6 separate regions of the Homo sapiens genome follow, and regions 2, 3, 4, 5 and 6 are each reported to be linked to region 1. The links are microRNA targets in miRTarBase. Many come from high-throughput screens and were not tested one by one. Region 1 holds a microRNA gene; each other region holds the end of a gene's coding sequence.

Region 1 (4,000 bases):
CCCAAATACCTAAGGTTGTAAACTGCCAGCCAGTGAGCCAAATCCAGCCAGCAAACATGGTTTGGTTTGGCCAGAACTGTATTTTAGAATAAAATGAGTAAACATTCAAAAACCAGTTTTCAGACCAGGCATGGTGGCTCACGTCTGTAATCCCAACAATTTGGGAAGCTGAGGCAGGTGGATCACTTGAGGCCAGGAGTTTGAGACCAGCCTGGCCAACATGGCAAGACTCCGTCTCTACCAAAAAGAAAAAAAAAATGCTGGGCATGGTGGTAGGTGCCTGTCTTTACTCAAAATACAAAAATTAGCCAGGCGTGGTGGCACATGATTGTAGTTCCAGCTACTCAGGAGGCTGAGGCCCAAGAATTGCTTGAACCTGGGAGGCAGAGGTTGCAGTGAGCCAAGATAGTGTCACCGCACTCCAGCTTAGGCAACAGAGCGAGACTCAAAACAAAACAAAACAAAAACCAGTTTTCCCATAAGCATCAGAACTTTGCAAATCAGGCTGGGCGCAATGGCTTATGTCTGTAATCCCAGCACTTTGGGAGGCTGAAGAAGGAGGACTGCTTGAGTTCACAAGTTCAAGACCAGCCTGGGCAACATGGTGAAAGACTCTGTCTCTACAAAAAAAAAAAAAATGCTGGATGCGGTGGCAGGTGCCTATGGATCCAGCTACTTGGGAGGCTGAGGTGAGAGAATTGCTTGAGCCCAGGAGGTCAAGGCTAAGTGAGCTGCGATTGCGTCACTGCACTCCAGCCTATGAGACAGAGTGAGACCCTGTCTAAGAAAAAAGAGAGAGGAAAAAAAAGAACTTTGCAAATCAGAAGATGTGGCAAAACCGGACACAGATTCCTGTGTGACAACATGGTCAGGAGTGGGTAGCACCTGCCTTTTTTAGACTGGACATGCGCTCTTACTGGGGGCACTATTATACTTCCAACAGTCAAGTCACCTCACTCATTCACAACGCAGGCCAGCTCACAAGTCTGGAGTCTCTGATCAAGACTCTTGTGATTTATTCCCGGTATTACGTTAGGCCAGATTTCCTGGTCTGCCAGCAAACAGAAGGCCAATTTCTTGCTCAATGGTTTAATGCGTCAACTTTGACTATGTGTTGCCCAGGTCCCCCTCAACTGTCTTTGGAAGCAACGCTCAGAGCTCAGTGGTCCCACCCACTCACTTCACTGTTTGTACACATTTCCATGTGCTCTGGGGCCAGCCTGTGGTCCAAACTTAATTTGACAATAACTGGCCCATGCCTTTAGAATTTTTTCTTTTCCTCTAATGCTTCCCCACTCCTGCGATGACCTCTGGCCAAGGTGGGAGTGACAACCAGTCACCCCCTTACCCGGTCTTTCATAGTAGAATGAAGAACACAGTTACTCCTCGGCACAGCCTTCTGTAGTGCCTGAAATTATGATGCCCAGTTCGCTGATAAGGAAAATGAGGCCTAGAGGGGTGAAGTGACCTGCCCCAGGCCACAGGAGCACCAGGGACCCATCTTTTCAGTTCAATCCCACCAGCCCAAGGCCCCTTTCTCTGGCCTCACACCTCATACTAGGTCTTGAATATCTACAACTCCAGGCTGCCATTTTTCATGAATTTTAGGTTCGTTTATTGCACAAACATCTATCTAATATCTATCATGAGCCAAGCCTTGTGCTGTACATAGTGAAGTGGAAAGTCCCTGCCTTCTCAGAAGAGGCAGATAACACTGAAGACAATTCGGGGGTAAGTGCTGGGGCGGGGGGGGGGGGGAATGAGATTTCTGGCTTCCTGTTGCCTCCCCACCGCCATCCCTGGACTGGACGATAAACTACCTGTGAGAGGCTGTCTCCAAATATGGCTGCCAACAATTCCTCCCCCTACTAAACACGAAGCCACTCCTCCCAGTAAGGGGGCGTCTAGATTCAAGTTTGGACCACAGGTTGGCCCAAGAAACATGGACAACAACAGGGTGCAGGGGCGGGCACTGAACTCTGAGTGTCACCTGATTCAGTGGGTCAGGACATGTTGAGTGGGACGCTGGATAACCCACCATTAAATTTTCCATGCTGAACAGCTGAGCAAGAAATGGGACTTCTCTTCAAGGATAAAACAAAAAAATCAAGCCCAGTATATTTTCCTTTTCCTTGAACCTGATGAGGAAGCCTGGGATGAATCTGAGCTGGTGTTGTGACTGGCTTTGACCACCACAGAAGGCTGCAGGGGTGACACTTTGTGACATTAGAGCCCAGCCCTTAAGAAGCCTTGCAGTTTCCATTTCACCATCTTGGGAGCTAATTGCCATGGATAGAGGCGCAGTCTAGACTAGCAAAGGATGGGAGATAGCGAGGAGCGTAGGGGGACCAGCCTTCCAGCCTTCTCTATGAGGGCCTCAAAGATGTATGTGAAGCCACGATGGAATTTCCAGCCCAACCTAGCTGAGTGCAGCCTCCTGAGTGATCCCAACTGACAACCCGGGGAACAGAATAAGCACCCAGCTGAGCCCAGCCAATCCACTGAATCAGGACAACTAAGAAATCATTATTGTTTTAAGCCAGTAGGTTTTGTGGTGGCTTGCTAAAGATAAGTGATATGCTTTTCAGGAGTGGAGTCCTGTACTTTTTGTAGCTCTCCCTTCCCTTGCCTGAACCCCTGAACCCTGGCAATGGGCACTGAATCCTGGAGCTGGAAGAGGCCTCCAAAATCACTGAGTCTCACCCCTGTCATTTTATAGAAGAGAGAGCTGAGGCTCGGGAAGCCATGCAATTGACTCCAGGTCACACAGGGTAACAGGGGCAGATCCAGGAGGCAAACTCAAGCCCTTACAGGGGTTGAGCACCAAGGGTACGTCTCCACCGACTTGCAACACACCAAGACAAATGTATGTTGCAAGTCAGTAGAGAGGTACCCCTGGTGCTCACACATTCTGTCTTAAGAGGCAGTCACTCCAGCCAACTGTGGCCATGTGGGAATGTGGGCCCTGTGAAACCAGATTGTCTGACTTTTCAGAAACGCCAGAAACAGGACTTTTCTGTAAAATCTCTTGATTTTCAAATGTTGGCTAAGAATTTGAACTGGATAGATGAGCTATTAAGATTGGCCCTGGGCTTCAAGCTTGGTCCCGCTGCTGGCTTTGGGCGAGTCATATTATCTCCCAGACCTCAGTTTCCTCATCTCTAAAGTGGGCCCCGTGGCTCCTGCCCCTTTCAGGATGGCTGTGAAGGCCTGATGAGCTATTGTATTTGGAAGTACAAGCTGCAAATGGCCCTGTGACTGTTTCGTAGTCTCCATTCTCTGTGGAGGCGCCCCTTACAACATAATGAGTTAACACCCGATTTGTCTAAGTTAGAACAACATTATTCTGACCATTATCACAGAGATTGCATTTTTATGGCAGGTTTGTGAGTTGTAGAACCCTCCCATTGCATTATCTCAGGATGTTGATGGAGCTGGAAGCTGGACAGCTGCCTTAGAGACCCTCATCAGAGCCAAGCCTTTCCTCTGAGCAGGGAGGCACATTCTAGAAGTGGAGAAGAGCATGAGCTCTGGAGTCACCAGACTTGGGTTTCAATCGCTGCCTCACCACTCCCTAGGTGTCCTTGGGCCAGTCACTCCTCTCAGAGCTTTGGTTTTCTCATCTGTAAAATGGGCACAATAATACAACGACCTGTGGGGCTCTTGGGGCAACTGCACAAGGCAACACACATAATGCTGTTAGTACAATGTCTGGCACAAGAATTGACAGCTGCTGGGCGCGGTGGCTCACACCTGTAATCCCAGCACTTTGGGAGGCCGAGGCAGGTGGATCGCCTGAGGTCAGAGTTCGAGACCAGCCTGACCAACATAGTGAAACCCCATCTCTACTAAAATATACAAAAAATTAGCCGGGCATGGTGGCAGGCATCTGTAATCCCAGCTACTCAGGGAGGCTGAGGCAGGAAAATCTCTTGAACCCGGGAGGCAGAGGTTGCAGTGAGCCGAGATTGCACCACTGCAGTCCAGCCTGGGCAACAAG
Region 2 (5,348 bases), not on the chromosome of region 1:
CACTTGCATTTCCTATCTCCTGAGGCCCATCTGAGTAAGAATTCTTGATGTACAGTGAAATAATCACATCTGTCCTGCTCATTGAACAACTAAAGAAATTAGAAAGGACTGGTGTTGACTTAAATTTATTTACTTGCAAACTGGTTGAGATTGACTTAAACCTACACAGACTGTTGGAGACCCGGCTTTTTCAGTTAATCTCAACCCATTTGCAGGCAAATAAGGTGGCTTGACTCCCAATACATCAGGCTTCTTGCTCCTGAAATTATAGTTCGTGGACCAGCAGCACACCCTCCCTTAATGCTCCCCTCTGACAGCCCTTCTCAATCAGAACCAGCGGTACTAGTGGTACAACAATATCCTTAGGGGATCCCTAAAGCACCATTTTAGGGTATTTCCCTGGACACTGAATTCCATGGTAGCTCCCAGGCTACATAGGGAGGATCAGACATTGATCTTGGATTAGATGTGACATTTTTTAAAAACAAATCATTTAATTTTGCTAATGGTCAGAGTCTTTTCTTGGCATCTAAATCCTGCCCCTACCTCACCCCCCTACCAAAGTCCCAATGTTTAATGGGAAAAACCACATAGAGGCACAAGGGAGGTGGGCCCAAGACCTTTGTTCTGTAGGCCCTCACCTTAAGAAAAAGGTGCTATGTTAATATTAATAAATCATAATATGCAAATCACCAAAGGCTGGGCCCGGTGGATCACACCTGTAATCCCAGTACTTTGGGAGGCCGAAGCAGGCAGATCACTTGAGCTCAGGAATTTGAGACCAGCCTGGCCAGCATGGTGGAAAACCCCGTCTCTACTAAAAATACAAAAATTAGCTGGGCTTGGTGGCACTTGCCTATAGTCCCTGCTACTTGGGAAGCTTAGGCAGGAGAATCGTTTGAACCTGGGCAGCAGAGATTGCAGTGAGCGGAGATCACACCACACCACTGCACTCCAGCCTAGGTAACAGAGTGAGACTCCATCTCAAAAAAAAAAAAAAAGAAAAAGGATAGACACCCTAGCCAACATGCTAAATATATTTTCTTATTTTAGAGGATCCATCCTGCGTAGATTTCTTCAACTGGTGTCACCTAGTTCCTCAGCATGGTGTCTGCAACCACAAGTTTTACGGAAAACAATGCTGCAAGTCATGCACAAGGAAGATCTGATCTTGGTGTCCTCCCCAGCACCTTAGGGCCAGGGGCTTACCTTTCAACCTCTAGAGAGACCAGCTGCCTTTGAGACCAGGAGCTGAGCACCGAGAACCATCTGTGAGCTGCCGCTGTGATGAAGGAGCCTGCTCTGAGGAACAGACAGGTTGCCAGTAGGCTTCTAGCTCAATTCCCTGAAGCACGTGGTACTCTGAAGCACTTGAAAATGGGAAGCGATGACAAATCTGACTTTAAAAAAAATCTTTGATTTGCACTGTTATATGCAAGAAGTGGTGAATCACACTGAGATACGTCGATTTGGGGAGAGACCCCCTTTTGAACTTCAAAGGGTTCAAGGGCAAAGACATCTGTTTTAAAAAGGTCCTTTATGACTTCAGGTCAAAGACTGAGACTCAGAACTTTCAAATCTGGATGGAATACCTTGCCTAACTGTTGCGTGGAGTTCACAGTTCGACTAACCCTGTGAACACCCAAGCCAGGAGTTCTATGAGAAGCCAAATGGTGCTCGCAATTGTGCTTGCTGCTGGACTGGCAAGCTTCATGTTATGTTTATTTGGTGTGCGTGTGTCTTTATTATTTTGTGTAAACTATATTCTGCTTATAGAGAGTCTCTGAGACTAAAATTGACAACTTGAAAAGTATTCCAAGGAATATTATGAAAATAGGGCAACATGGACTGTTTAAGATCTCCATGTAATTGAAATTCATGCAAGGAAACAACTCATAGAAAAGATAAATATGGATGCCCTTCACATGTTATCAACCTCGTAACTTTTGGTGCTTGCTGAATCAGTCCATGAAAAGCTACAGCCCGCTCTTTGGGAATGCTACATACCCATTTCTGGTATTTAAAAAATATCTAGGAGGAGCTAAATGACAAAACACAGCAGTGTTTTGAGGGAGAAAGGACCATCATTTATAATGCTCTGTACATACTACCAGAGCTGCTTGGAAAATTAAAGGCCACTTGTGGCTTTTTCCTACCAACTGATACGTTTAAATTTGCCCTAGGATTGAGCTAACAGCAAAAAAAAAAAAAAAAAAAAGAGAGAAAGAAAGGAGTAAACAGTGGTAATAAAAAAATCCATCTGTCTTCTTGCTATGTTAATATTAATAAATCATAATATGACAAGACCCTCACTGAATAAGAGTATTTTCAGTCATCAGAAGCCAGCTGTTGGTAGGCATTAATGAGTTTAAAATTGTTCTCAATTGAAAAAACATCACACTATTTTGCCAAAACCAAAGTAATTATAATACTGTGTCCTCCTGTAATTTTTTGAGAAGTGGTTATAAAGGGCATATTTACATAAATTCTACTTTATTCCTCAACTTCTTTGATGAATGTAACCCAATTTTACTTCTTTAAAAAGTCTCAATTCAAGCTGGATTAGCCAGCTCAGCATAATCAACTAGACAGTGGTTTGTTAAATTTAGCAGCATACTTCGTTCCCATTCTAATTAAAGTCATGAGTTCTTGAATCCCAGAGAAATAATGCTTAGGAACTTCTCTCAATCTGCTTGGCTTGGCCTAGAGAAGTGGCCATTTTATCAACAGGAAAAAAAAAAATTTTCTCTACTACAACCCCGTTGCCTTCTGAAAAACAGCAAGTTATTTCTTTATATAATTATCATTTTATTATTTTATGGAAAATTAATTTATTAATTAATAGCCTATTATGTGTTCTCACTTGCTTCTCTAAGTAATATTTTGAGATAAAATGTTGAATAAAACCATGGATTATAGAGAAAAGTCAAAATATATGTGTAATATTTAATTATTTTATAAGTTTTATAATAAAGTATTCCATTTCTTTATCTTTGACAGCTTGTTAAGTTCTTGAATAAGTTAGTGAAAAGTCCATAATTTCAAAGGTAATTTAACTGTATAAATGTCACTCAGGACTCTTAGAGAATGGTTGGGTGCAGCGGTTCACCTCGGTAATCCCAGCACTTCGGGAGGCCAAGGCAGACGGATCACCTGAGTCCAGGAGTTCGAAACCAGCCTGGCCAACATGGCAAAACCCTGTCTCTATTGAAAATACAAAAAAAGTAGCCAGCTGTGGTGGCACACAGCTGTAGTCCTAGCTACTTGGGAGGCTGAGGCTGCAGTGAGAGGAGATTGGGCCACACCACTCCCCGCTGGGTGACAGACAGAGACTCTGTCTCAACAACAACAAATCTACAGAGTAACTTCATTGAGAAGAGGAAAGATAGATAAGCTATTCAACAACTAGTGATTTTTCTTGTTTGCCTTTGAAGAAATCAAAGTATGAAATGCTAGGATGAAACAGATGACACATTTACCCTCTTGAGGACACACTATTTTGTTCCCCTGTAATTGTCATGAGAACATTTGTGGAAATCATCTAAGATAAAACTACCATAAATGTATTTTTACATTTAAAAGTCATTCTAGTAAAATATTTTTGTAAAAATAAAGAGGGGGAAGGGAAGGATGGGCAGGAAAACATGAAAAAAATAAAAAGTAATTGTTCTTGGCTTTTTGAAATTTTGAATCATTAAACCAGTGGAGAATAAGAACTGGGCAAAGTTATGTCCAATTGATCTGAAAATACTGTATTTTTCCCTGCATCTGTGATTACATGTGTGTCTACATAAGTTCATATGCGTATCTTTATAGTTAAGAGAATTTTTATATAATTTATTGCTATTTAGCAAACAAAAAATTATGATTAAGAATGGAAAATGGAATAGATGCAGATAAAATACGTGACAGAAAAAAAGATATTTTGTTCTTTTTTTGAGACAGAGTTTCACTCTTGTTGCCCAGGCTGGAGTGCAATGATAGGATCTCAACACCCTGCAACCTCCGCCTCCCAGGTTCAAGCGATTTTCCTGCCTCAGCCTCCCAAGTAGCTGGGATTACAGGTGCCCACCACCACGCCCAGAAAAAAAAATTGTCTTTATACCTTTTGGTAATAAGCAACCACATATTAGTGTTTAATGGGAATCAGGTATTGTACTGAACTATTTATATATGTTATCTCATTTAATCCTAACAATAGCCCACTTAGGAAGATACTATTGTTCTTTGTTGGCAGGTGACAACTCGGATTCAGAGACATTACGTATTTAGCCCTAGTACACAGTCACTGAGTGATGGGGTCAGGACTCAAACCCAAATCCATTGGGGTTCTCGTGACTGTGTTGCGTTACCCTGGGATAGAGAAAGAAAAAGAAGGGCATGCAGGCCTTAGAACTCTACTTTTTGCCCCCTGAGATGCATGTGAATGGAGTTTGACAATAAGTGATTTAACAATGATAAATTACGGGCAGAGCTGGGAATTTCATATGGGGAACTGGGGTTGAGAAATAATAAATCCTTACCTAGTCTTTTCAACAAAGTATACTTAAAGACTTGTTGCATATCTAAGTCTTTATCTGTAATAATTGCTTTGCTCTGGGATGATAGTATTTCCTGGGCAATCACACCAGAGTATCTGGAGCCTGCAACTCCAAGTCCATTAAGATGGAGGGAAAGCATGAGCGAGAATTCTCTTGGCATGGGTTCTATATGCTAACGGTAGAAAGACGATACCACACCAGGAAAAAAAAAAAGTTGTCTTTCTTTATAGCTTTTGGTAATAAGCAACCACATATTAGTGTTTAATGGGAATCAGATATTGTAATAAACTATTTATATATGTTATCTCATTTAATCCTCACAATAGCCCAATACACCACAATACCTCACAATACACCAGCATGTATTATGTAAGACATGGTTTATGAAAATTTATAACACAGAACCCATTATTGCTAAGTGTGATGTGGAAAAGGTCATCTAATTATGTGCTATATGGTTTTATCTTTGAAAATGTAAAAATATGCATAAGGATTCCATGCTTTGTCTGTTTTACCTTATCTTTCCCCTAAGATCTTAATTCCTTGAATACCTCTATGGTCTCCACTGGTGCTGAGGGTCAACACCTAAGACGGTTTTCGTCAGTCACCCCTGGATCTGGGTGACTGACACCTTCTTCCTCCTGAGAGGACCACAGACTCCTGAGAGGTGATTCTCAAACTGTTGTCACTCAATTGCTATCATCATGAGTTTTCCCCATAAGCACGTATCACCTCTACCAACTTTTAAATCTATTTAAGTAAAAATATGATTTGCTGTAAAAAATATTTCAGCCAGGCACGGCGGCT
Region 3 (5,348 bases), not on the chromosome of region 1:
TTTAATAGCTATTAATATAAAATGATTAACAAATCCTTAGTAATGTCCGTCTCATTTTTTACAGAAGTCATATGTTAGAAAGACTCTATCAAACTAAGGATGGTAGTCAGCGTGGAGGAATTTTTAGCCAGTTTGCAAATCAGAATCTGAGCAAGAAAATCCCTGGAGTGAAACTCTGTGAAAGCATTGTATATGGAGAAGTCAGCATGGGTCAGTCATCCCTTAATAGACACATCAAAGATCACAGTGGACATGAACCAAAGGAATATCAGGAATATGGAGAGAAGCCAGATACACGTAACCAGTGTTGGAAACCCTTCAGTTCTCACCACTCCTTTCGAACACATGAGATAATTCACACTGGAGAGAAACTCTATGATTGTAAGGAATGTGGAAAAACCTTCTTTTCTCTCAAAAGAATTAGAAGACACATCATCACACACAGTGGATATACACCATATAAATGTAAGGTGTGTGGGAAAGCTTTTGATTATCCCAGTAGATTTCGAACACATGAAAGAAGTCACACTGGAGAGAAACCCTATGAATGTCAGGAATGTGGAAAAGCCTTCACTTGTATCACAAGTGTTCGAAGACACATGATAAAGCACACTGGAGATGGACCTTATAAATGTAAGGTATGTGGGAAACCCTTTCATTCTCTGAGTTCATTTCAAGTGCATGAAAGAATTCACACTGGAGAAAAACCCTTTAAATGTAAGCAATGTGGTAAAGCCTTCAGTTGTTCCCCAACCTTACGAATACATGAAAGAACCCATACTGGAGAGAAACCTTATGAATGCAAGCAGTGTGGGAAGGCCTTCAGTTATCTCCCCTCCCTTCGACTACATGAAAGAATTCACACTGGTGAGAAACCCTTCGTATGTAAACAATGTGGTAAAGCCTTTAGATCTGCCAGTACCTTTCAAATACATGAAAGGACTCACACTGGAGAAAAACCTTATGAATGTAAGGAATGTGGGGAAGCATTCAGTTGTATCCCAAGTATGCGAAGACACATGATAAAACATACTGGAGAAGGACCTTATAAATGTAAGGTATGTGGGAAACCCTTTCATTCTCTGAGTCCATTTCGAATACATGAAAGAACTCACACTGGAGAGAAACCTTATGTATGTAAACATTGTGGTAAAGCTTTCGTTTCTTCAACATCAATTCGAATACATGAAAGAACTCATACTGGAGAGAAACCCTATGAGTGTAAGCAATGTGGGAAAGCCTTCAGTTATCTCAACTCCTTTCGAACACATGAAATGATTCACACTGGTGAGAAACCCTTTGAATGTAAGCGATGTGGTAAAGCCTTTAGATCTTCTAGTTCCTTTCGACTACATGAAAGGACTCACACTGGACAGAAACCCTATCATTGCAAGGAATGTGGGAAAGCCTATTCTTGCCGTGCCAGCTTTCAGAGACACATGTTAACACATGCTGAAGATGGACCACCTTATAAATGCATGTGGGAAAGCCTTTAATGCTCTGGGTTCATGTCAGATACATTAAAATACTCACTGAAGAGAAGCCCTATGAATGTAAGTAACGTGGGAAAGCATGAAATTCTGTCAGTGCCTTTTTTAATACATGAAAGAATTCTAGAGAGAAGCCATATACATGTAAGTAACATGGGAAAGCTTTCAATCATTTTAGTTCCTTTCAAATACATGAAAGAACTCATCATGGAGAAAACCAAACAAATGCTTTTTGGAAAGGAACCCATATTTGAGAGAAACCCTGGGTAAAGGGTGTAGGAAAGGTTTTGTCATCACACAACCCTGTCACACATGAATGTGTAGTGGAGAGAACCTTGGTAAATGTAAAGAGTGTGGGAGAGCCTTTAGTCATTTTAGTTCCACTTGAAGCCATGAAAGAACACACAAAAGAGAAAGCTCTTGAATATAAGCAATGTCCACACGTTTTTAGCCAGCCCACATGCTTTCAACAACATGTAAGAATGTACCCTGGATCAAAACACTATAAATGTGAAAACTACAAGGAAGGTTTTCCATTATACTTTTAAAGTCATTTGAGGGCTCTGGCTCTGTGGCTTTGTGGGTTAAAGTACTTGTCTGGCAAACAGGAGATGCTGGATTTCAATCCCAGCAGGGCCTCACTAGTTGAGGTATTGAATTTGAACAGATGTTTTGGCTCTGGCTGGGTGTGGTGGCTCACACCTGTAATCCCAGCACTTTGGGAGGCTGAGGCAGGAGGATCACTTGAGGTCAGGAGTTTGAGACCAGTGTGCAAAACATAGCAAGACCTCATCTCAGAAAAAAAAAAAAAGTCATTTGAAAACTTCTAATACAGCAAAATCCTATAAATGTAAGTACTTCAAAAAGCCTCATGCATAGCGGGTCATGTAGTCTCTAGAAAATACATAACCTGATGGAAATGTAGAAGCTATATGTATATTTTGTTAATTAGTGGCTCATATTTAAAATAGTTCTCTGACTATGGATTTCAAATGCTTAATCTCACAAAGAAATGTTAAATTGATATAATCCTGTAAGTAATCTGAAAGCAATAGTGCATGAATTTCATAGGTAGTGTTGTTTTAGGTCAGTAAATAAAATATTTGTCTTTCCATTTTGAAATGTGTTTAATCCAACAATGAATTTAAATGTGTTTCTCATATTCAGGTATGTTAAATTGTATATGGTTGCTTAATTGTTCTGTGATTGAGGACCACTGAAAAATAAGTCTTAATAAATGTTGGTATGAACCTACTTGCTTCATTTAGCAGGTTCTTGATTCCCTTTCCACATTATATACATTCCATCATATTTATTGGAACAGCTCCTTTTTTTTCCTTTTTTCTTTTTTCTTTCTTCTTTTTTCTTTTTGAGACAGGGTCTCGCTCTGTGCTCTGTTGCCCAAGCTGGAGTACAGTGGCATGATCTCGGCTCATTGCAACCTCTGCCTTCTGGGTTCAAGTGATTCTCCCACCTTAGCCTCCTAGGAAGCTGGGACTACAGGCATGTGCCACCACACCTGGCTAATTTTTTGTATTTCTAGTAGAGATGGGGTTTCACCATGTTGGCCAGGCTGGTAGAACTCCTGACCTCAAGTGATCCACCCACCTCAGCCTCCTAAAGTCTGGGATTACACGTGTGAGCCATCACACCTAGCCCATTTTTTTTTTCTTGGCTCAAATAATTTTATTTTGCTTCCTATTAAAGAGTTGTTGTTAATTCTAAGTATGTAAAGTTTATCACAGACTGTAGTCTCGTGAATTATTATTTTAACCTGTTGTTCTTTACTCCTTGTTATTTATTCTGGCTGCTCTTTGTATAATTGATTTTGGGATAAGGAGACAGCTATGATAGAATAATAAAATCTAAAATGGGAGATGCCTTTCATGGATTGTGTCATGTCAATCTGGGTAATGGGAACTAAACTTTTCAGACTTCATTTCTTTCTTTCTTTCTGAAATAGGGTCTCACTCTGTCACTCAGGCTGGAGTGCAGTGGCACGACTGTGGCTCACTGTAACCTCAAACTCTGGAGCTCAGGTGGCCTTCCGACCTCAGCCTCCCAAATGGCTGGAACTATAGGTATGTGCCACCAAGCCCAGCTAATCTTTTTATTTTTGGTTTTTCATCTTTTTTTTTTTTTGTAGAGATGGTGTCTTGCTATGTTGCCCAGACTGGTCTCAAACTCCTGGCCTCAAGTCACCCTCTAGCCTCAGCCTCTTAAAGCACTAGGATTACAGGCATAAGCCACTGTGCCTGGCCCAGAATTTCTTTCTTTCATGGTTACCTGTAGACTGCATCAATAGCCTAAATTCCTGGAAGTTTAGAATGCAGAAGTGAAGAACGCATTAGTCAGATTTTGGAGGCATCATACGGAGAGACAGATGCATATGGGCTGTTTGGACATGGTCATCTAGCCCATTTTCCTGATTCTTTGCCCTGCCAATCAAGAGTATCCTCAGCCGGGTGTGCTGGCTCACACCTGTAATTCTAGCACTTTGGGAGGCCAAGGCGGTCGGATCACCTGAGGTGAGGAGTTCGAGACCAGCGTGGTCAACATGGTGAAACCCCATCTCTACTAAAAATACAAAAATTAGCTGGGTGTGGTGTCGCGTGCTTATAGTCCCAGCTGAGGCAGGAGAATCGCTTGAGCCAGGGAGGTGAAGGTTGCAGTGAGCCAAGATCATGCCACTGCACTCCAGCCTGGGTGACAGAGTACAGAGTAAGACCCTGTCTCAAAAAAAAAAAAAAAAAAAAAAAAAAGAGTATCCTCTAATCCACCACTAGCTACTTCACCTCCATGTTCTCAAAGTTATGGATTTCCATAGATGTTTTTAAAAGCTTCATATCAAAGATTCAGCTGCCATTTGGATATTCCTGAAGGCCCTAATATATCTGCCAAGTAATCAGTTCATATTGTCATTGTTGGGAATAGTCTGATGATCTGACTTGGTTCCTGTACGGTCCAGTTTGTACATAAACATTTTTGTCCATAGGGACAGTGAGTGTTACTGATGCAGGTTGAGAGCTACAATGGCACTATCCAAAAACAAAACGAAAAACCCTACATGGAGCTTGTTCCTCTGCTGCATTATGCAGAGATGGGTCTCACCCCGTTCTTTCATGTGAGAATAAGCACCTTATTCATTATAGAAACATTGTGGGTGTTTCCTGTTACTCATAGCTGAATGCAGTCCCTCAGTTTATTTTGAATTATGTTTGAGTACATATGATTACAAACAATATACATGTCCTCCTCAAACAAAAGTTCTCTACACATTTCTTAGAAATATTAACAGTATGCAAGCAACTTGCATACTGTCTGGTGAGTTTTGTATTTATTGAGAATATATATTAAAATATCCCATTCCAATCATGGATCCGATAAACTTTATAATTAAGCTATTTGTCCAACATTGTGAGTCAATATTACTGTGAGCTTACAACTTCAGGCCTTTTTTTCCTCATAAATTTTAGTTTTCATGCTTATTTGATTACAACTTTTATGATGATAGTAGTTTTTCATATGCATAATACCAAAAGTCAAATCATGTTGTGAGTGATTTCTTTCCAAGGACTATCAGGGACGTCCCTGTTGTCAAGCAGGGTGTAATAAATTGTGGTAATAAATACTACCACAGGCCGGGCGCGGTGGCTCACCCTGTAATCCCAGCATTTTGGGAGGCCAATGCGGGCAGATCACTTGAGGCCAGGAATTGGAGACCAGCCTGGACAACATAGCAACACCCTGTCTCTACTAAAAATACAAAAATTAGCCTGGTGTGGTGGTGCACATCTGTAATCCCAGCTACTTGGGAGTGGAGGTTGCAGTGAGCCAAGCACGCCACTGCACTCCAGC
Region 4 (5,348 bases), not on the chromosome of region 1:
GAATTTTAACTGCACTTTAGTTATTCACTCATAACCACACTTTAGTTGATTGCTCACTAAATGTTTTAGCTTTTGAGCCATCGCTTGTGAAACTCCTTGTATCAGGTAAATTAGTTTCATTTATTATGTTATTTGGTAATATATCTGCCTTTGTTGAACATGTATAATTTTTCCAACCTTAGGAATTAAGAAAGGAACTAGATATTCTTCTGCAAGAGAAGATTGAAAGTCCTCATCCTGTAGACTGGAATGACACTAAATCCAGAGACTGTGCAGTACTGTCAGCTATTATAGACTTGATCAAAACACAGGAAAAGGCAACTCCCAGGAACTTTCCGCCACGATTCCAGGATGGATATTACAGCTGACAGCTTTTCAGGGGTGGTCTGAAAAGCCAGTTTGACAGCCATTCTTCATCATTGTTTAAATTTTGGCTGGATGCCAAACCCTGGGACATGAACAATTTTCATGTGTAAGGTAGAAGCCTTCAGTAGGTAGTAAAGACTTAATGTGCATGACTTGATGTTATATGTAGAGATATATATATATATATATATATACCATAAAAGCAATATGTTCTCTGATCATATACTCTGCTGTGGTCATGCCCACTCTTTGGGAGTATATTCCCTTTATATATATTGAGTATTGTACCACTTGAGAAATTCCTTTGTTCTGTTATACAAAATTAATCTTTCTGCTCATAATGATTGATGATACCACCAGTAAAAATAGGATGTTTACCCCAAAACAAGTGTCAATTAAGAATTTGAACACAACCACATTTTTTAAAATGAAACTTCTATCGGAAGTAAATTAATTTGTTGTAATAAAGTCCAGTATTTAATAAAATGTACAATGTTAAATCTCAGCCAACCTCTTGGATTGGTTTCTACATTTTCACCTATGGCTTGGTTCATTTGATATTTTTACTATTTTTAAAACACGTGCCCTTTTTATATCACCCTGTGCCTCATAATACAGCAATTGAGAGCACGGTCTGGAGCCTGATTACCTCAGTTCCAGTCTCAGCTCTGTCAGTTAGTCAGTGTCTTGGCTTCTCTCCTTTTTCCTTATCTTGTAAGATACAGTTGGCCCTTCATATCCATGCATTCCACATCTGTGGATTCAAACAACTGTGGATAGAAGATATTTGGGGAAAAAAAGGATGGTTGTGTCTATACTGAACATGTGCAGACTTTTTTCCTTGTCATTCCCTAAACAATACAGTTTAACAGCTATTTATATAGTATTTACATTGTATTAGGTATTATAAATAATCTAGAGATGACTTAAAGAATATGGGAGGTTGTGCCTAGGTAACATGCAAATACTACGCCATTTTATTATAAAAGACTTGAGCATCCATGGATTTAGGTATTTGAGGGGTTGGGGTTGGAAACCAGTCCCCCACAGATACTGAGGGACAACTGTACATGTAACAGTTGTGAGGATGAAGTACATTAATACATGTAAAGCACATAGGCTAGTGCCTGTACTCTCTGAATCTTAGTTGTTATTTGTCCCTGAAATATTTTCGTAAATGTCTAACAATCTATTATATTACACTTTTTATTTTATTGCTACTTATCTTCTTCGCCAAGGAATAGTGTAACAACACATGCTGTACATTTTCAGCCCTATCAGATTGTGATAAATACTGTTGGTTGCCGGCCAGCAACTATTTTGTCCCTCCCTTCTTGCTTGCTTATTCTGGTGTTCCCTTCTGTGCAGCTCTGTGTCCAGGTATGTTGGACCCTTTCCCTAAGGGTGAATCCTGCTGTTCTAAATGAATCACATGTGGTCTTATCCCCCTTATAAGTAATTGATAAGGCATGAGTACATAAACATGTCCTAGTGAATGGCAGCTGAGAAGTGATCTTCAAGGGGGTGTCTGAAAAATGTTTTACTCACTAATAGGCTTAGAGGAGGAAATCCTGCTCTCTCTGGACATTGTCTTTTCTGACTCTGATAGTTGGAACTGCTGCAGCCAACTAATGATCACAAGGAGACACGGACTCAGACTGAGGTTAGCTCAGTGGAAAGATAGAACTCACCAGAGCCTTTGATAATGCCGGTAAGCTTCAGAATTAACCCATTCTAGAGCTGCTTTACATGTGGACTTATGTTGATATAATAAAAACCCTTCAATTGTTTAAGCCACTTTTAATAGGATATTGTTAGTTTTTTGTTGGTTTTTTGTTTTGTTTTGTTTTGTTTTTTGTTTTTTGGAGACAGTGTCTTGCCCTGTCACCCAGGCTGGAGTGCAGTGGTGTGATCTTGGTTCACTGCAGCCTCGACTTCCTGGGTTCAAGTGATCCTTCTGCCTCAGCCTCCCAAATAGCTGGGACTATAGGCATGCATCACCACACCCAGCTAATTTCTGTATTTTTTGTAGAGACACCGTTTCACCATGTTGCCCAGGCTGGTCTCAAAACTCCTGTGCTCAAGCAGTCTGCCCGCCTTGGCTTCCCAAAGTGCTGACATTACAGGTATGAGCCACTGCACCCGGTCCCTAGTAGGGTATTTTTAACTTGGCAAAAAGGGTATTAATCAGAAACATACACTATCCATCACTGAGTATTATACTCTTGATTTTGCAATGTAAGAGTTTTAACCTATTTGTCTGACAGAAGGTGTAAAAGTGCTGGACATGCTGCAGAAAGAAACAGGAAAAGCATCTTGCTGCACTCCAAAGAATGCAAATTTTAATGTGCCTTCCAATAAATGCAAGGAAACCGAAAGAGTTAATAGTATCATACAATGACTGGGATGTATTGATAATGCTACAGTGATCCATTAACAGCACTTGTTCAGGTACTGCTCCCAATCCTGGGAATGTGTGTTACCTGTTATGTCTCAAATCCTTTATCTTGGCTGTTCTTCTAAAAGTGATCTGTCTGTCATTGAATGCTGGCATTAGAGTCATGTCACAATATTAGAGCATACTGGTTTTGCCTCTAACGTCGAGGTGACCATCTGGTCTTTCTTGCTCTGTAAGAGTTTCTGTTTGTGCTTTTTTTTCCCTTACTTTTATTATCCAGTTTAAATCCAGTCAGTTGGCCAAAATGGTCTTGGAAGAAAGGATTTAGAGATTCTGTAAAAAAGATTATTAGTTGGTTCTGTGTTTGCAAACCAGTATGTAATTCCCATATGAATGGGGAAAATGTTCCTGAGGAATTATTTAATTGATGAGGCATTCACAGAGATTAAAGCAGTTATTGTTACCTCCAATTTATGTCTTCTGCACAGCTGATTAGGTTGGACATTTTAATCCAAGGTGCTACTTACATTCTGTTTCTTTTGTTTACAAAATAGGGCATTACTGAGTAGAAAATACATTCCAGGTCTAAGAACTGTTTGTTCTTTAGTGGATTTTAAAGAATAAGACATTAAATTAAGAAGGAAAATCTGTTTGATTCATCATTTTGAGTAATGCAGAGAATAACTCTTAAAAAAAAAACCTGAAACAGAAACTTTCAGGAAAAAAACAAAAGAAATTAAACTACTGAATAATCTTTCAAAAGCATCGTTGAACAGTGAGCACATGTGATGCCTTCCCAATTAATTAATTTGGGCAAAAGCTCTAGATAAACTTACACCAATTGTTGCAAGGCATTCTCTATTACTGCATTTTTAAAACAAAGTCCTCCCCTAAAAGTTATGAATTATACAAAAGCTTTAGGAGGAATTTTAGTACTCCTTTACCCAAAATAAATAGTGGTAAATTTCCTTCTGTTCTTAGCTCTGAGTTTGTATTTATTTATAAGTCATTGTGATCATGTATACTTATATATTTTTAATATGCTAATTGCTTTTAAATGGGATTTTTGTTCTGATTTTAAAATAATACATCCTCCCTGGACAATATTTGGAAATGTAGCAAAGTAAATCATGTTACCATTGTTCCATTTTGATATATATAAACTTTAGGTATTATTTTATATATAATAAATTTTAAGATATTATATACAATAAAATTAACCAATTTAAGTATATGATTCAGTGAATTTTGTCAAACATATAGTAGTGTAATTACCACCACCACAATCTTGATACAGAACTTTTTTTTCCCCAGAGATGGAGTTTCGCACTGTCACCCAGGCTGGAATGCAATGGCGCAATCTCGGCTCACTGCAACCTTCGTCTGCCCGGGTTCAAGCAATTCTCTGGCCTCAGCCTCCTGAGTAGCTGGGATTACAGGCACGCGCCGCCATGCCCGGCTAACTTTTGTATTTTTAGTAGAGATGGGGTTTCACCATGTTGGCCAGGCTGGTCTCGAACTCCTGACCTCATGATCCACCTGCCTCGGCCTCCCAAAGTGCTGGGATTACAGGCGTGAACCACCACACCCAGCTGATATAGAACATTTGTATCACCTAAAAATTTCCCTTTTACCCCTTTGTAGTCAATCCCTCACCCCCACTTCTATCCCCTCGAAACCCATTGATCTGCGTTTTGTCACTTTTCGTTTTGCCTTTTCTAGAATTTCAAATAACCAGTCTTTTGTGTCCAGCTTCTTTCACTTAATGTAATACTTTTGAGATACTGATATTGTTACATGTATTAGTAGGTAGTTCCTGTTTTATCTTCTATTCAGTAGTATTTGCATTGTATAGTTATACCACAGTTTGTTAATTCATTTACCAGTTGATGGACATTTGAGTTGTTTTCAGTTTTTTTGCTGTTATGAATAAAGCTGCTATGAACATATGTATATAAGTCTTTGTGTGGTTATATGTTTTCATTTGTCTTGGGTAAATACCTAAGATTAAGGTTGTTGTATTATAGTAAGTGTGTTTGTATAAGAAACTGCTAAACTGTTTTCAGAATTTGCTGAAATTTTACATTCCCAACAGCAATGTGTGTTGGGGGGGTCAGAGTATTCCACATCCTTGCCAGTACTTGGTATTTTTAGCTGTCGTTTTAATTTTAGCCTTTAGTGGATGAGGAGTCCTGTCCCATTATGGTTTAATTTTTGTTTCTAAAATGATTAATGATGAGCATCTTTTCATGTTGTTTGCTTTTTCCTTAGTTATCTTATGTATTTCTGTTTGGGTTTTGATTTTTCATCTCATGTCAAATGATTGGAGTTTTAAGGATATATCTGACTACGGAGAAGGAAGATTACTAATTAATTTTAGAGATACAAAAAGTTGTTATTTACATTCCTTGAGATTTATAATGGCCAGATGTGTTACTCTTGACTTGGTTGGTAAAGTGTAAAGAGTTAAGCCAGTGTTATTAAGTGCCAGGAGAGACTAGCACCAGTTTTATATAGTTATGAAGGCAAGAGGTGTATTCATCATGAGGTGAAGAATGGGACATAAGAAAAAATATTTATTAGT
Region 5 (4,000 bases), not on the chromosome of region 1:
GGCTGGAGTGCAATGGTACAATCTTGGCTCACTGCAACCTCCGCCTCCTGGGTTCATGCAAGTCTCCTGCCTCAGCCTCCTGAGTAGCTGGGATTACAGGCATGCACCACCAGCTAAGTTTTGTATTTTTAGTAGAGATGGGGTTTCACTATATTGGCCAGGCTGGTCTCGAACTCCTGACCTCAGGTGATCCTCCCGCCTTGGCTTCCCAAAATGTCAGGATTACAGGTATGAGCCACCATGCCTGGCCAGTTTCTTTCTTCATAAGATGATTTTGAAGGCCCCTTTCGGCTCTGATAGTCTAGGATACTATGCACCTGGGTCAATTGGTTTTAAGCACTTTCAAGGCTTGCTTTCCTGTCATTTTCAGTCTAGAAAGTTTAACTTCCAGGGCTGGCCTAAAGGTAGAGCTTATTTTTAAAAGGGAGGGCTAGTTCTGATTCAACAGTAGACCTAAGTGTTTGGTTGGACTTGGATCTGCTTCAAATTTCCAGGAGACATGAAGCATAATGACGTGTAATCCTTAAGACCTAGACCCTTACTCTCCCAGAGAGGAGCTGGAAACAGACCGCTTACTGAGGGATGCATAAGGGAGTACCTGTCTGGGGTTTCACCAGTGTTGTGTGGAGGGGACTCGGCTTTCTAAATATCAAGCTTCTGGGAAATATTGAGTGGGGGCTGGTGGTGAGGTGCGGGGAGGCCACGGGAACTACAGACTACTAAAGGCAGGGATTATGTTTAGAAGCCACGGGGCTGAAGCCCTTGGGTGACAAGCTGTTGATGGTCCCAGGCCCGGGAAGGCTACTTTGGGATAGTGCATCCCCAGCTCAGTGCACACAGGCGGGAAACTGGTCCCCTGTCCCAAGCCCATAGCATCTCCTGTAGAGTTTTCTTTGGCTCCGAGAAGCAGAGGCCTCCCCTGAGCCCTGGCCCCCCTCTACCGCAAAGCAACTGGCTTCCATTACCCCTGACAGCTCCAGAGCAACAGCCCAGCCCCCGGCCCCGGCCTGGCTCAGTGCCGTTCCCTTTTATGGTGAAGCTGAGAGAAAGCATGGAGTGAGGGGGGAGAAAGCTCTGGCTTGGGCAGAGGCTTGGAGAGTTCCAGGGTGCCTCTCCCCTCGCCAGAGACCCTCGGCTACCCGCAGCCACCGCTCTTCGTTCTCTTCGGCGACCTAATCTGTCCTGAACCCAGGACCCCTCTTGCTTGTCCCAGCCCTTCCTCCTCTTCTCCATTCCTCCCCTTCTCCCTCCCCCACATCCGGGGGGTGATTTCCCACTTGGCCGAAGTCCCACGGTTTGGGTTTTGATTCCGGGAGGGTCCGCCCTATTTCCGACGCCCACCTCCGGGGGGTAGGGTGGAGGGAGGGAGCCCGGCTAAGACAGAACCTGGTCAGATCACAAAAGGCAGGATGGTTCTACTTGGTTGCATGTGGGTCACAAAGGATGGCGCCGGAGAAAGGAGCACCCGGCAGCACCAGCCCTGTCCCCATTCTACAACGCCTCCTACCCCTGTCCCCGCCGTCCGGGCCAGGGAGAGGGCACTGAGGGCAGGACCCAAAGGAAGCACCTGGTTGGGCCGGGCCGGGAAGCGAAGGGTGGGCAGCAGTACTGAGGGCCGGGGCCGGAAGGGGGTTGGAGTATCCCGCCGGCCCCGCCGCTGCACCCTCGCCCCAGCCCACTCCTCGGCTCCGGGGAGGCGGCCACCACGGCTTCGCTAGCCGCGTCCCGAGCCACGCCAGCTGCAGCCAGCTGTGCGGTGCCGGGCCCAGGCGCGCGTCCGCAGCCCCGCCCCACCCCCTACGGCTGGACCTCCCACCGCAGCCGCGCCCGAGGCCCCGCCCCAGCCGCGGCCGTAACGCGCCGCGCGGAGCCGACGAGACGGCGGGGCTAGAGAGGCCGTCCCGACCGCGCCCCCCGCCGGAAGCGGCTTGTTCGGGCCTGAGCTGGCGCTACGAAGTTCCGGTCCAGGTCTCTGACTTCGGGCTTGTTCGCTGGTGGCGTCGGAGCCGAGCCGGACTGGTCAGGTCAGAGGCACGCAGGGGCCGTCCCACGGGCCAGCCCCGCCGTGGCCGTGGCCGTGGCTGGCCCGTGGGGCGAGGACGGGTTCTTGCGAGGGCGAGGAGTGCGCCAGCCCGCAGCTCAGCCCCTCTCTTCTCCGCAGGATGATCACGGACGTGCAGCTCGCCATCTTCGCCAACATGCTGGGCGTGTCGCTCTTCTTGCTTGTCGTTCTCTATCACTACGTGGCCGTCAACAATCCCAAGAAGCAGGAATGAAAGTGGCGCTTTCTCCGCCCCAGGTAACGGCCCGGGGCTGTAGCGCCCAGTCCCCAGAGCTGAGTGGCGAGGCCGCGCCAGGGCTAGCAGGGTTCGAAACTTACAATCAGAAAGTGTCGGGCCAAGCATGATACAGTCCAGAACTGGGCCCCTTTGTCTGCACAGAGTAGAGAGAGAGCGCGCTGTCCTCTCCCCGTAACCTGTTCCCTGCTAGAATGGGAGTGGGTTGCCTAACCCTCACAGTCTCCAGTAGGTAGATGCCCAAGTTGGGAGTATAGTTGTAAGGAGGCACTGACACCGGTAGGAACGAAGGTACCGAGGGAACCATCCAAGTATGAGGATTTGGGCTCTTAAATAGCCCTCATTTTCCCCAGGTTGTTTAGGCCTTATTTGGGCAGATTTTTTTTGGTGAGGGGGGTGACAGATGTAGAATTCTGTTTCCATGTTCTGAGGCCAGGGGTTGGCTGCTGACCCAAACTATAGAGAAGGAAGGGGGGGCTTTGGAGCCAGCCTTAAGTGTGGGTCACAAGTATAAAGGGAACATGGATGGGCGTTACTTCCTGAAGGATTCCCCAGAGGAAAGCTGCAGCATTTTCCTTACCTCAGGTCTTTCCCCCTCTTTTCTAGGGTTCCAGGACATAGTCTGAGGCAAGATGGAGGGTATGAGGGGCCTTCACACTTCACTTCATCCCTTCTACCCATCACAACATACAAAGCAACTACACCTGGATTTTTCCAAACAACTTTTATTTCCTCAGAGTCTTCCTTAATCCTATGGAACAAGAAGCTGCCACTGAATAGGGCCCAGTATAGGGGCTTGCTTTTCTACTCCCTCCCCCCAATATAAAAATATAGACTTTTTTTTGTGGTCCCAAAATCTTGTGCTGCGGAGGGAGGGAAGGGGTGGCAGGTCCCTGTTTTGTTCTGTCTCAAGGTGATACTCTGTAATGCCTTGGACAGCGTGGCTGGCATTCCAAGGACTTAACGGCTGTCACATGGAATCAGCGGCCTGGAGGGGAACTAGCATATTTCCCACTGTTACCCCATCTTGGGGCTATATCCTGGGCTTGAACATAAAGGCATTATCAGACCCGGGGAGAAACAGTCAGTGGGGGAGATTTAGGGACAAAACAAACCTCAGGTTGGCCCAAGGGACCCCTGCTGTAACAATTCCAGGATGGGGAGTCAGATAGACTACAGGATATAGGAGAAAAGGCAGGGGCAGAGCGGGGCCGTGGGGGCCTGGCCTGAGGCAGCCTGCAACAGAAAAGAGAGAGGAATCAGGGCTGTGAAAACTCTCCTCCTCTTCTGTTCTGCTAACCAGGGGCTGGGAAGTGAAAGAAGTGGAGCGAGATGAAGATGGGTAAGGATGGGCAAGTTGGTTACTGCACAGTGGTTTGACGCTGGAACCAGCCAGCTCCTAGACCTTAGGCCCTGACTAAAAGTTGTTTTCTTTTGCTTTGGATTGAAGACTTGGCCATGGTGGGGGAAAAAAAAATCAGGGACTAGATTCTTAATGGAAGTACATTTAGTCTTTGTGCTCAAAAGGAGTAGGGAAGCAGAAAATTATTCTGAATGACAGAAATGGGAATGAGGGGACAGAAGTGAGGGGTGGTGTGAGGGACTGGACCCAAGTGCTCACCCTGGTGTAGCAGAGCAGGATCCCAGCTCCAGCTCACTGCTCTCCCTGGTCCGGGGGGTAGGGGATGTGGGGCCTGAAGAGC
Region 6 (4,000 bases), not on the chromosome of region 1:
ATTCCTGTATTGATTCATTGGTTCATTGATCACCTATCCTAAGCCCAGCTCAGTGCTGGGAAACTGGGAGACAGGAGTGGTCTCTGCCATCGTGGAACTTGTAAAAATTTAAAAATTCTGTTCCCGGCCAGACACGGTGGCTCATGCCTGTAATCTCAGCACTTTGGGAGGCTAAGGTGTGTGGATTACAAGGTCAGGAGTTCAAGACCAGCCTGACCAACATGGTGAAACCCCATCTCTACTAAAAATACAAAAATTAGCCAGGCACGGTGGCACGTGCCTGTGATCCCAGCTACTCAGGAGGCTGAGACAGGAGAATTATTTGAACCTGGGAGGCAGATGTTGCAGTGAGACGAGATTGAGCCACTGCACTCGAGCTTGGGTGACAGAGCGAGACTCCGTCTAAAAAAAAAAAGAAGGCCAGGCACGGTGGCTCACGCCTGTCATCCCACCACTTTGGGAGGCCGAGGCAGGCGGATCATGAGGTCAGGAGATCGTGACCATACTGGCTAACACGGTGAAACCCCGTCTCTACTAAAAATGCAAAAAATTAGCTGGGCGTGGTGGTGGGCACCTGTAGTCCCAGCTACTCGGGATGCTGAGGCAGGAGAATGGCGAATGGTGTGAACCCAGGAGGCGGAGCTTGCAGTAAGCCGAGATCACGCCACTGGACTCCAGCCTGGGTGATAGAGCGAGACTCTGTCTCAAAAAATTAAAATAAAATAAAATTCTGTTCCCGTGTGTGGTGTTAGAATAGAGAGTAGTTTTCTTCCTCAGTTCCCGGATCATAGCTCCTGAAGCCCTAGTTGCAGTCTTTTGCTGCACTGCTGAGCTCGTTAGGCCTCAGGAAATAATCTCCCGCCCTCCTCTGGGCTGCAGAGCTCTAATCTTACCTTTTCGATTACGGGTCTTGGGACCCTCCCCAAAGAGGGTCCTGCCCTATACCCCTGGGGAAGTAATGCTGACATCATGAAGCTTCCATAAAATCCCTAGGCCGCGTGTGGTGGCTCACGCCTGTAATCCCAGCACTTTGGGAGGCTGAGGTGGGTGGATCACCTGAGGTCAGGAGCTTGAGACCAGCCTGGCCAACGTGGTGAAACCCCGTCTCTACTAAAAATACAAAAGTTAGCCAGGTGTGGTGGTGGGCGCCTGTAATCCCAGGTACTCAGGAGGCTGAGCCAGAAGAATCGCTTGAACTCAGGAGGGGGAGGTTGCAGTGAGCCGAGATTGCGCCACTGCACTCCAGCCTGGGTGGCAGAGCAAGACTCCGTCTCAAAAATGAACAAACAAACAAAAAACCACGAAACCCTAGAGAACTGGGTTCTGGGGAGCTTCCAAGAGCTGAACATGTGGAGATGCCTGGAAGCTCTGAGATGGTGCCCTGTGCATCCTCATGGCACTCCAATCCCCACCCTACACGTACCTCACCTGTGGTCCCTTCTTCTGCTATCTTTGCCACATCCTTTATAGTAAACCAGGAAACACAAGTGTTTCCGAGTTCAGTGAGCTGCTCCAGCAAATTAATTGAACCCAAAGGGGTGCTGGGAACCCCAACTTGAACCCGGCCAGACCGAAGTCCTGGAAGCCCAGATTCGCAACTGGTGTCTGAAGAGGGAGAGGCTCGGGGACTGAGCCCTCGGCCTGTGGGATCTGACACTATCTCTGGGTAGAAGGCGTCAGAGCTGAATTAAGAGGACACCCGGCTGGCGTCTGCTGGTTGGTGTGTGGGAAAAAACGCTCCCACATGTGGTCACAGAAGTCTTTTCTGTGTGGATGACTGTGATGTGGCGGTGACAGCAGGGGAGAAACAAGGCTTGAGTGTTCTCTATGTCCGATTGGACCCCCTCCACCAGAACAGGCTGTGGGGACTCCCATTTAACAGGAGACACTGAGGCCAAGGGAGTGAAGTCACCTGCCAGCAACTGGAGCTGGAGTTCTGGATTCACTTTTTATTTTTTTATTTTTTTGAGACGGAGTCTCGCTCTGTCACCCAGGCTGGAGTGCAGTGGCGCGATCTCGGCTCACTGCAAGCTCCGCCTCCTCGGTGCACGCCATTCTCCTGCCTCAGCCTCCAGAGTAGCTGGGACTACAGGTGCCCGCCACCACGCCCGGCTCATTTTTTGTATTTTTAGTAGAGACAAGGTTTCACCATGTTAGCCAGGATGGTCTCCATCTCCTGACCTCGTTATCCACCTGCCTCTGCCTCCCAAAGTGCTGGGATGACAGGCGTGGGCCACTGCGTCTGGCCTGTTTTTTTTTTGTTGTTGTTGTTTTGTTTTTGAGACAGGGTCTCACTCTGTCGCACAGATTGGAGTGCAGTGGCTCAATCTCGGCTCACTGCCACTTCTGCCTCCTGGGTTCAAGTTATTCTCCTGCCTCAGCCTCCTGAGTAGCTGGGATTACAGGCGCCTGCCACCACAGCCCAGCTTTTTTTTTTTTTCGTATTTTTAGTAGAGACAGGGTTTCACCATGTTGGTCAGGCTGATCTTGAACTCCTGACCTCAAGTGATCCGCCGCCTTAGCCTCCCAAAGTGCTGGGGTTACAGGTGTGAGCCACCACGCCCGGCTGGATTCGCTCTTGCAGTCTGAGAAGTGATTCTGGTTGGTGGTGGTGGGCACTGGGGGATACCGGACGACCCTCCCCACCGGTGGCGAGTGGGCTGCGTTCTGGAGCAGGCCGGGCGCAGATCCCAGCTGAGCCCTTGCTGAGGGTGTAACCTCCGCTGCCTGGGCCTGGGAATCAATCACATGAGGCACTTCAGTTCCTGGGAAGTGTTAGGGCTGTTGTCTCACCAATGTCACTACCATCTGCCCAGCTGGCCTCTTCATTTGACATCTGGGGAGACTGAGGCTCAGGGAGGATACCTGGGCCGGGCGGGGCTGGAGGGCCCGGGCCCTGCGTTCCAGAAGAGCCGCCTGCTCTCCGGCTTCAGGCTCCGCAGGGCCCCGTGGGGCGTCCCCCTCCGCTGCTCCCACCAGGCCGGGTCCAGGGGTCCCGGCGTTTCCGGCCTCGAATCCAGCCTCCAGTCGCCGCGGTTCCGGGGCCGTGGGTGACCTGCTGGGGAAAAGCGTCTTCTGCGGGCACCGGGGCTGGGAGGCGGGCGCTCGCATACACACCAGCGTCAGCCTCGCAACACATTTTATTAGCGTGGGGCAGGGGCTCCCGCGGGGGTGGAGGGGCGGCCGCGGCGCTGTGTGGGGACCGGGCGTCCGCTTCCTGGGAGCCCCGGCCTCCTCCGCAGGGCTGGGCGCCTGGTTATGGCAGGGCCTCACCAGGGCGAAGGGAAGGCTCCGCGCGCCCCGCACGCGGGGACCCCCCAGCGCAGATCCCGGATCCGCGCGGCCCACGGGCCTCAGCCCACCGGCTTGACCTTCGCGATGAAGAGCGCGGCGGCCCTCTCCAGAAACTCCTCGCGGGTCATGGGCGCGCTGGGCCGCCGCCCCCCGACGGCGCGGTCCAGCGCCAGCGCCAGGCTGTCGGGCCCCAAGCGCGAGCCGGCCTCCAGGAAGCGCGCGGGCGCGGCGGCGTCGCTGGCCTGCAGCGCGCCCTCCAGGGTGTCCAGCACGGCCTGGCCCACGCGGCGGTCGGCCACGGCGGCGGCCGAGTCCTCCAGCAGCTGGAAGAGCGCGCCGGCGCGCGCCACGAACTCCAGCAGCACGAAGCAGGTGAGTGTGCCCGCGCGGAAGACGCTCAGCGGCACCGCCTCGTGGTCACGGCACTGCACCTTGCGCAGCAGCGGCGCCACCACCTCCTCGGGGGCTTGGCCGTCCCGGCAGATGCGCCTGAGCAGCTCGCTGTAGGTGCGCCCGTCCAGCCCCGGCCTCTTCCTGCGCCCGCCGGCGCTCAGGCACTCGTAGGCCACGCTCACGTTGTTGTTGAAGGCGGCCCTGCGGAGACGGGGACGTTGGGGGCCGGCAGAGACCGCGCGCCCACCCAGCCCCAGCCTCCCCTCCTCGCCAGGCCTATGCCCTAGCCTCCCCGACCCCCCAGCCAGCCCTG

Evidence for each region. The annotated mature microRNA hsa-miR-4684-5p reads CUCUCUACUGACUUGCAACAUA and lies in region 1 at 2,868-2,889, opposite strand. An mRNA with a match to its seed (bases 2 to 7 or 8) in the 3' UTR can be bound and repressed. Matches are read on the target gene's strand: a 7mer-m8 pairs with bases 2 to 8, a 7mer-A1 pairs with bases 2 to 7 and ends in A, and an 8mer does both.
Region 2: the mRNA of ADAMTS18 is a reported target of hsa-miR-4684-5p. Seed matches in the 3' UTR shown: 7mer-A1 at 2,705-2,711 and 7mer-A1 at 2,917-2,923.
Region 3: the mRNA of ZNF136 is a reported target of hsa-miR-4684-5p. Seed matches in the 3' UTR shown: 7mer-m8 at 3,033-3,039.
Region 4: the mRNA of DHX36 is a reported target of hsa-miR-4684-5p. Seed matches in the 3' UTR shown: 7mer-m8 at 532-538 and 7mer-m8 at 2,395-2,401.
Region 5: miRTarBase lists AGBL5 as a target of hsa-miR-4684-5p. The part of its 3' UTR that is shown has no 7-base or 8-base seed match.
Region 6: the mRNA of TPGS1 is a reported target of hsa-miR-4684-5p. The part of its 3' UTR that is shown has no 7-base or 8-base seed match.

The regions. Positions count from the first base shown.
Region 1 is chr1:22,718,419-22,722,418 of GRCh38, reverse strand. MIR4684 (microRNA 4684) reads right to left here and starts at 2,902; the gene lies at 2,821-2,902. All of the region lies in intron 1 of EPHB2 (EPH receptor B2), which reads right to left.
Region 2 is chr16:77,279,777-77,285,124 of GRCh38, reverse strand. ADAMTS18 (ADAM metallopeptidase with thrombospondin type 1 motif 18) reads left to right here. Exons shown (of 23, transcript NM_199355.4): 23 at 1,054-2,997. The coding sequence ends at 1,169. Among named protein-coding and RNA genes, the nearest start is that of SYCE1L, 83 kb to the right of the region's middle.
Region 3 is chr19:12,186,506-12,191,853 of GRCh38, forward strand. ZNF136 (zinc finger protein 136) reads left to right here. Exons shown (of 4, transcript NM_003437.5): 4 at 65-3,366. The coding sequence ends at 1,496. Among named protein-coding and RNA genes, the nearest start is that of ZNF136, 26 kb to the left of the region's middle.
Region 4 is chr3:154,271,191-154,276,538 of GRCh38, reverse strand. DHX36 (DEAH-box helicase 36) reads left to right here. Exons shown (of 25, transcript NM_020865.3): 25 at 183-3,993. The coding sequence ends at 368. Among named protein-coding and RNA genes, the nearest start is that of DHX36, 51 kb to the left of the region's middle.
Region 5 is chr2:27,069,625-27,073,624 of GRCh38, reverse strand. AGBL5 (AGBL carboxypeptidase 5) reads right to left here. Exons shown (of 15, transcript NM_021831.6): 14 at 3,919-4,000; 15 at 3,007-3,533. The coding sequence ends at 3,362. OST4 (oligosaccharyltransferase complex subunit 4, non-catalytic) reads left to right here and starts at 1,971. Exons shown (of 3, transcript NM_001134693.2): 1 at 1,971-2,024; 2 at 2,162-2,299; 3 at 2,904-3,153. The coding sequence starts at 2,163. The coding sequence ends at 2,276. RefSeq lists enhancers at 763-822, 2,253-2,492 and a silencer at 1,503-2,202.
Region 6 is chr19:518,777-522,776 of GRCh38, reverse strand. It overlaps TPGS1 (tubulin polyglutamylase complex subunit 1), which reads right to left. Exons shown (of 2, transcript NM_033513.3): 2 at 3,123-3,888. The coding sequence ends at 3,354. Among named protein-coding and RNA genes, the nearest start is that of CDC34, 11 kb to the left of the region's middle. RefSeq lists an enhancer at 3,413-4,000.